3 separate regions of the Homo sapiens genome follow, and regions 1 and 3 are each linked to region 2. Evidence: fine-mapped expression QTL. A gene starts in region 2. Each other region holds a variant in brackets. All regions are shown on one strand. Distances are between the middles of the regions.

Region 1 (2,765 bases), 800 kb after region 2:
TGAAATGTAATGCCTGTAGAAAGTTATTCAGTTCAAAGTCACGCCTTCAAAGTCACCTGAGGAGGCATGCCTGTCAAAAACCCTTTGAATGTCATAGCTGTGGAAGAGCATTCGGGGAGAAGTGGAAGCTTGATAAACATCAGAAAACTCACGCAGAGGAAAGGCCCTATAAATGTGAGAACTGTGGAAATGCCTACAAGCAGAAGTCAAATCTCTTTCAACATCAGAAAATGCATACTAAAGAGAAACCCTATCAGTGTAAGACATGTGGAAAAGCCTTTTCCTGGAAATCATCCTGCATTAATCATGAGAAAATTCATAATGCCAAGAAATCCTATCAGTGTAATGAATGTGAGAAATCCTTCAGGCAGAACTCAACCCTCATTCAACATAAAAAAGTTCACACTGGACAAAAACCCTTTCAATGTACGGACTGTGGAAAGGCTTTCATTTACAAGTCAGATCTTGTGAAACACCAGAGAATACACACGGGAGAGAAACCCTATAAATGTAGCATATGTGAGAAGGCCTTTTCCCAGAAATCCAATGTCATCGATCATGAGAAAATTCACACTGGGAAGAGAGCTTATGAGTGTGATCTATGTGGAAATACCTTTATCCAGAAGAAAAACCTCATTCAACATAAAAAAATCCATACTGGGGAAAAGCCCTATGAATGTAACAGATGTGGAAAAGCCTTCTTTCAGAAGTCAAACCTTCATAGCCATCAGAAAACTCATAGCGGAGAGAGGACCTATAGATGTAGTGAATGTGGAAAAACCTTCATCCGGAAATTAAACCTTAGTTTGCATAAAAAAACCCATACTGGACAAAAACCTTATGGATGTTCTGAATGCGGTAAAGCCTTCGCTGACAGGTCATACCTTGTTAGGCACCAGAAAAGAATTCACTCCAGATAGGAGCCCCATGCACTTAAAAAAACATGGGAAGATATGGTTGCCTGGAATTGTCACCCCAGAATTCCATGTTGAAATGGCCTCTAATTTGGAGGCTATTTTTGAAGGTAGCGAGGACTTATTATCACAGTATCCTTTGAAAACCCATTCGGCATACTCACTCAGCAAATGTTTATTAAGTATAAATATTTATTAGATGCCTTTTGTGTACCAGGAACTCTTAAACACTGAAGATGTAGCAATAAACCAAATGTGCTAAAACCCTGATGGAGTTTTATTCCAGTGAATAATGACCAGTGGTATCCATATCTTTAAAAACGTTTAAAAGACTATACTTTTGGCCAGGCGTGGTGGCTCAAATGCCTGTAATCCCAGTACTTTGGGAGGCTGAGGTGGGCGCATCACCTGAGGTCAGGAGTTCGAGACCAGCATGACCAACATGGTGAAACCCTGTCTCT[A/G]CCAAAAATACAAAAATTAGCCAGGCATAGTTGTGGGCACCTGTAATCCCAGCTACCCGGGAGGCTGAGGCAGGAGAATTGCTTGAACCTGGGAGGTAGAGGTTGCAGTGAGCCAATATTGCACCATTGCACTCCTGCCTGGGCAACAAGAGCAAAATTTCATCTCAAAAATAAGATAAAATAAAATAAACAAATAAGACAGCACTTTATACTTTTAGGGATGATTTCTATAATTCATGAGTGGAGAGGTTTCTCTAGAGGTGTAGGGGACTGGAAACCACATCCAGGAAGTACAGCTTTCTCTCCTGAGCATGAAGGTATCTTGGCATTTCTTCACTGCAATTGCCATTTGCCTTTTTTGTTTTTCCTTTTGAGATAGGGTGTCACCTGTTGCCCAGGCTGGAGGGCAGTGGTGTAGTCATAGCTCACTGCAGCCTCAAACTCTTGGGCTCAGGCAATCCTTCCACCTCAGGCTCCCAAAGTGCTTTGATTACAGGCATGAGCCATGGCACTCAGCCTCGTTTCTTTCTTTTCTTTTTCTTTTTTTGGAGACAGAGTTTTACTCTTGTCACCCAGGCTGGAGTACGGTGGTGTGATCTCAGCTCACTGCAATCTCCGCCTCCCTGGTTCAGGTGATTCTCCTGCCTCAGCCTCCAAAGTAGTAGCTAGGACGACAGGCATGCACCACCACGCCTGGCTCATTTTTGTATTTTTAGTAGAGACGGGGTTTCACCATGTTGGCCAAGATGTTCTCGATTTCCTGACCTTGTGATCCGCCTGCCTTGGCCTCCTAAAGTGCTGGGATTACAGGCGTGAGCCGCTGTGACCGGCCTACATTTCTTTTTTCATAGTACTTTCCTTCTTTTCCTCTTAAATGCTAAAAATAATGTATTTTTAAAAACCTCGTACGTATGTTTCTGGTTGCTCTTCTCTTCTTTCCCACACCTACTCTGCCTAATTTTGCCCCATTCCTTATATAATACCAGGCTCTTATCTCTTTTTACCCAAAAAATCCTCTCAATTTCCATTTGTCTACTCACATGGCCATTTAAAAAAATCGTTCTTTACTCCTTGCTGAATTCACAGTCTAACACATCACCCACTGATACTGGGTACATTATAAGCTGTTTAAGGCTTGGCCACCAGGAAATGTTGTACATTTATGAGGATGGGTTTATCGTCTTATTCATATTAATAACATGAGCAACATCTTGCAGTGCTTTTGAATTCACAAAATCACACGGATATTTAGTATACTGCATTTTGCATATAACCCTAATGTTATGCCCTGAAATTCCTGGAAAATGGTAAATAACAGTTGATTGCTGCATAGCAAATTTTACTAGTCACCAGTCATAAACACATGTGGAAGCTAGCCAATGGTATATGT
Region 2 (2,765 bases):
GACTGAGGCAGGAGAATCGCTTGAACCCGGGAGGTGGAGGTTGCAGTGAGCCAAGATGGCGCCACTGCACTCCAGTCTGGGACAGAACGAGACTTTGTCTCAAAAAAAAAAAAAAAAAAAAAGAAAGAAAAACTTCTGTGAAGTGTAAATTTTTTTCACCATCCACTCATGTTTCAATTGACCTATTTCTGTCATCGCAGTTATTAGATAGTCGTTGGTAATAAGTTTCTGTAACTGGCATTTCACCTGTTTTTCTGGTATCATATTAGTTCCTCATGCAGAACACTCCCCGCTGTCACAAGAGAAACAAATGATAATCACTTCCCAGGAAAGATAACAAGCTCGATAATTTAACATACGCCTAGTGTCTCCAGGTGGAGATTATCACCACCATTACCAATACCAAGCTGAGATTTCTCTTTCATTGTTCTTTACCTGAGACTGACTTCAAGTTCCTAAAATGAGTTGAAAATATAAGTTAGAATACCAAGTAAGGGATATTACATGAATAAATGTTTTGCTGAATGAATTGGACACAATAATTGACTATATAAGCAGGAGAGTTGTTTTTCCATGGGAACGACTGATTGACCTTTGTACTCTTTCTTTAGCCTCTCCTCTATCTTCCTTGGCATGGTCCTATCTGGATTAGTTCTCTTTTGTCCCTGGCAGACTGAAAAACCAACTCTAATGCCTCAGAGTGAGGCAGGAGAATAGGGAATTAGGGTAACCAAGAATGAAGGCATAAGCAAAAGAACAGCAGGTGCAGCTAGTTCTAGGCAAGATGAGGCAGCACACAGGCCACGTCCTCACTCCTGTGGTAACAAGACAGAAGTCTCCACTTCAGCCTCTGATTGGTTGTGCACCAGTCCTTCATAGGATTGGAGGCCTTTAAAGAACTCTTGGGGTATTATAAAATTCTAGCTTATTCATGGCAAAAACCGCAATTACTTTTGCACCAACCTAATAAAACCCTAAAAAACATTGTAATCGGGGTTCTTGAGCCGCTTGGTCGCCTGCTCCCACACCTACATTCCACTTCTGTGGAGTGTACTTTCCCCTCAATAAATCTGCGCTTTCATTGGTCCGTTCTTTCGTTGCTTTTTTTGTGTGTTTTGTTCACTTCTTTGTTCAATGCGCCAACAACTGGACAACTCACAGCCAAGACATTCTATCCGGTAACAAGAGTGCATTCATGTGAATTATAACAGAGTAATGTTTATCAGCCTCTGCTTCCAGTGCAAGCATTCTGTGTCTAAACGATTGTATAAAGTGATACACGAATTTGGATTTGTAGCCTTTGGGGGCCTTCACAGTATTTTTAGCGCCTGGGAGCTTGAATTTACAGAAATGTGAATTAATATTTTTGCAAACACTTAGGTGGTCAGTTACAAACAGGGATTCCCCAGGAATCTCAATATGGCCTCTAAGGAGGGGCGAGACCATCCTCTGCCCTAAAAGGGTACGCGCTTTAATGAACCCCCTGAGGTAGGGCTGGGACTTCCCTGCAGAAGCGCCTTTGGGAAGCGGCAGCTTTACTACCTTGGAACCTGGGGAACTACATTACCCAGAAAGCTCTACATTGAATGACAGCGCAACAGAACCAGTAAGGGCTCAGAATAAAGGCGTTTCTGTGTGCGCACGTAACGTAGTGGCGGGATTCTCAGCGTTCTCTGGTAGCGACCATTTTGGTTAATGTTGGGTGTGTTTCTGCGGTTTGTGAGGTGAGAGGCGCTGGAGCTATGGGTCCGAACCGCGGTGTCTGAACCCAGAAGGTGAAGAGTCCTTCTTGCTGCACAGAGGCAGATCTTAGGCCCCGTAACGGCGCCCGCCGCTCCCGGCAGTGCTTTCCCCGCGTACTCGGGATGGCGGCGGCCGCGCTGAGGCTCCCGGCTCAGGTAATTGTGCCTTCCCTGCCCTCAGGTCACCTCATCCTAACCCGAATCCTGAAGCAGCGAGAGAGCGGCGACTGTTCACAGGTCTGCAGCCCGGACCCGGCGTCGGGACACTGAGGCGTTCGCGGGAGAGGTCCTTGTTTCTGACACCTGTGGGATGCGGTGGGGAGAGCGACAGGCACAGGGACCGGCGCGGGCTATGGCCTGGAGGACAGACCCGGGAGGATGGAACCTGGGGTCCACAGGCGCCTGTAGGGAACAACGTGTGAGGCGAAGCTTCTCCTGGAAGAGCAGGCTGGGGGCTGTGTATTCGCTGTGAAGACGCTAGAAGCCATGGAGAGTTTCGAAGAAAGGAGGGATGCGATCCAAGTCCAGGCTTTTAAGGTTTCCCAAAGGCCAAAGGAAGAACATAGTAGAGGAGATGAGGACCTTAGGGTTCTGGGAGGTTGACTCCTTTGTTGATAGATCACATAGGTGGTAGAGATGACATTTTGCACTGAGACACGCAGGTCAACCAGTCTGAGGTCACCTGGCTCCAGCGATAAGAAAAGGTTCAAGGAGACCTGAGCTTATCAGATCCCCTTTGTAACGTCTGCTTTCCCCTCAGACACTCCTGGCTACAAAAGCACGTAAAGAACCCACTGAGGGGGTCGGGCAAGGTGGCTCCCACCTGTAATCCCAGCACTTTGGGAGGCCGAGGCGGGCGGATCACCTGAGGTCGGGAGTTCGAGACCAGCCTGACCAACATGGAGAAACCCCGTCTCTAACAAAAATACAAAATTAGCCAGGCGTGGTGATGCCGCATGACTGTAATCCCAGCTACTCAGAGGCTAAGGCAGGAGAATTGCTTGAACTCGGGAGGCAGAGGTT
Region 3 (2,765 bases), 110 kb after region 2:
TCCAGACAGTGATAAATAGTTACAACTTTGGCACCAACTCAGGCCTAAGTGTCATCTTCCCTGAATTACTCCTATGCTTCTGCATGCATCTATCTCGTCTATTCTCTCCTCGGATGTCTATGTCCCCTTCCAAACTCTACTGTCTGATACATCCTGCCATGATGGTCACTCACACCCTCTCAGGTGTTTAGGAAGCCCAATAACATCACTCAGGGACGTAAGTAAGAGATCCACTCCTCAGCCTGTAGTCACACCTTCCTGGCCCCTGAAAAGATTTACCACCAAAATCTGAAGCATGTCCTCCTAAATGGACCCATAACTAACTTACTGTAGTTCGCTCATTAGCTTTCATATATTGGATGTCTCCATTATCAACACCCTCCCAGATATCCCATCCTGTATGTCTAGTTATCCATTTGATGCCACCACTTATTGGTCTCTGATTCTTCATATGGCCAAAACAACCCTCTTGCTATCCACAGTGAATATTGTTGTCAATACCAACTTCATGTCAGCAGATGCAGCGTCCATGGTTACAGCTGCAAAGATCAAAAACCTTGGGCTCATGCCCAATTCCTCTTTCATGCTCTTATCACCCACATTAGAAAACCTAGCTGTCGGCCGGGCACGGTGGCTCACACCTGTAATCCCAGCACTTTGGGAGGCTGAGGCGTGCGGATCACCTGAGGTCGGGAGTTCAAGACCAGCCTAACCAACATGGAGAAACCCCATCTCTACTAAAAATACAAAATTAGCCAGGGTGGTGGTGCATGCCTGTAATCCCAGCTACTGGGGAGGCTGAGGCAGGAGAATCACTTGAACCTGGGTGACGGAAGTTGCGGTGAGCTGAGATCACGCCATTGCACTCCAGCCTGGGCAACAAAAGCAAACTCCGTCTCAAAAAAAAAAAAAAAAGAGAGAGAGAGAAAACCTAGCTGTCTGCCAGGTACGGTGTCTCATGCCTGTAATCCCAGCACTTTGGGAGGCCGAGGCAGGTGAATCACCTGAGGTCAGGAGTTCGAGACCAGCCTGGCCGACATGGTGAAACCTCGTCTCTACTAAAAATACAAAAATTAGCCAAGTGTGGTGGTTCATGCCTGGAATCCCAACTGCTCGGAAGGCTGAGGCAAGAGAATCACTTGAACCCGGGAGGCGGAGGTTCCAGTGAGCAGAGATCATGCCATTGCACTCCAGCCTGGGTGACAAGACCGAAACTGCGTCTCAAAAA[A/G]AAAGAAAGAAAGAAAGAAAGAAAACCTAGCTGTCTTTTTACAAAAAGTGAATCCTGAATCCAGACCCATGTGATTTACCACATATCTGATCCATTAAGCCTCACCTAGATTATGGCAGGAGCCTTATCTCTGACCTTTCTTCCTCTTCCCTCAACCCACAGTCTATGCAACAAGGTCCAACCAGATGAAGCCTGTAGCCAGGTAGAACTGTGGTAATATCACCTCCTGACTTTGATCCGTTTTATCTCTAAGCATTTCACAACCTGGTAGCAAATCCTGGGTTAATCTTACAAGGGTGTTTACATTGGTTGACAGAAATGGGAATACCTCCATATAACCTGTCATGGACTTGGTATCCTGGCTTCAGAGATTCTCCAGGGTCCTCGGATCAAAGGACTGAAAAAAATGGCACTTAAGAGTCCCAGGACACCACAAGCTAGAGAACCTGTAGATGGCGTCAGGACCAATGAGGGGATTGAACACCCTCCACTTTCCTGTGTGGGTTCCCTAAGTGCTTCTGCAGCCAGGAGTGCCTGAGGGGAGAGGCAGACATTACAAACATGTCACGGGATTTGATAAGCTCAGGCCTCCCTGAACCCTTTCTTGTCCCTGGAGCCAGGTGGCACTCAGGCTGGTTGTCTGACCTGCTTGTCTCAGTGCAAAATGTCATCTCTACCACCTATGTGAGCTACAAAAAGGATTCAACCTCCCAAGGCCCCAAAGTCCTCATCCTCTCTCTCTACAATGTTCTTCCTTTGATTGGCCTTTGGGAAATCTTAAAAGCCTGGATTTGGATCATGTCCCTCCTTTCTTCAAAACTCTCCATGGCTTCTAGTGTCCTCATGATGAATGCACAGCCCTCAGCCTGTGTGCTCTTCCAGGAGTAGCTCTGCCTCAAACTTTGTTCCCGACAGGTGCCTGTGGACCCCAGGTTCCATCCTCCCAGCTGCCTCCATCTCCAGACCATCGCCTAGGCCCCTCCCTGTGCCTGTTGCTCTCCCCACCGCATCGCACTGATGTCAAACACAGGTGAAACCGTCTTTGCAAAATTATAACTGAGGAAATTATGACAGTGAAAGAAATCAGACCTAACCGACTCCATCTTGCTTTTAACCTTTAAGCTGTCCTTGTTCATTCCTGGGCACAGGCTGAATTAACTTAGGGAAGGAATTCAGTTCATGGTTTCACTCTGAAACAAAATTGATAACAGCCCTTTCCTGAAAAGACTCCCTTCTTGCCTGGGGACCAGCCTGCCTTTGCAGGACTAACAGTTTAGCTATAAGATTAGAAATTACCGTTTAGGGGTCATGTAGCTTCTGGCTCCAAGAGTCTGAACCTCGCCAAGTTGCTCCTGAAGATAACATAACAATTGTAAAAGCTAAGATCAGTGCTTGAGGTATTTTGGAGATCCTACACTGGATGGATCAGCTGACAACACACAGACCGGTAATCTGGGTCAATCAGTTCTGCCATCCCACCCACAACAGAAAACAGCATGAAAAACTCACTTCAACCCTCTATAAATCCATCTCCAAC

Evidence for each region. PIP is the estimated chance that this variant, and not a neighbour inherited with it, causes the effect.
Region 1: its variant is fine-mapped to the expression of ZNF418 in cerebral cortex (GTEx, PIP 0.94).
Region 3: its variant is fine-mapped to the expression of ZNF418 in whole blood (TOPMed, PIP above 0.99).

The regions. Positions count from the first base shown.
Region 1 is chr19:57,133,073-57,135,837 of GRCh38, reverse strand. ZIM3 (zinc finger imprinted 3) reads left to right here. Exons shown (of 5, transcript NM_052882.1): 5 at 1-1,742. The coding sequence ends at 920. It overlaps LOC124904804 (small nucleolar RNA U3), which reads left to right and starts at 1,578; the gene lies at 1,578-1,789. The variant A/G (reference allele first, on the strand shown) is at 1,376.
Region 2 is chr19:57,934,294-57,937,058 of GRCh38, reverse strand. ZNF418 (zinc finger protein 418) reads left to right here and starts at 1,657. Exons shown (of 6, transcript NM_133460.3): 1 at 1,657-1,898. RefSeq lists enhancers at 1,690-1,779, 1,372-2,254.
Region 3 is chr19:57,820,309-57,823,073 of GRCh38, reverse strand. No RefSeq gene overlaps it. Among named protein-coding and RNA genes, the nearest start is that of ZNF552, 6.8 kb to the right of the region's middle. RefSeq lists an enhancer at 409-909. The variant A/G (reference allele first, on the strand shown) is at 1,229.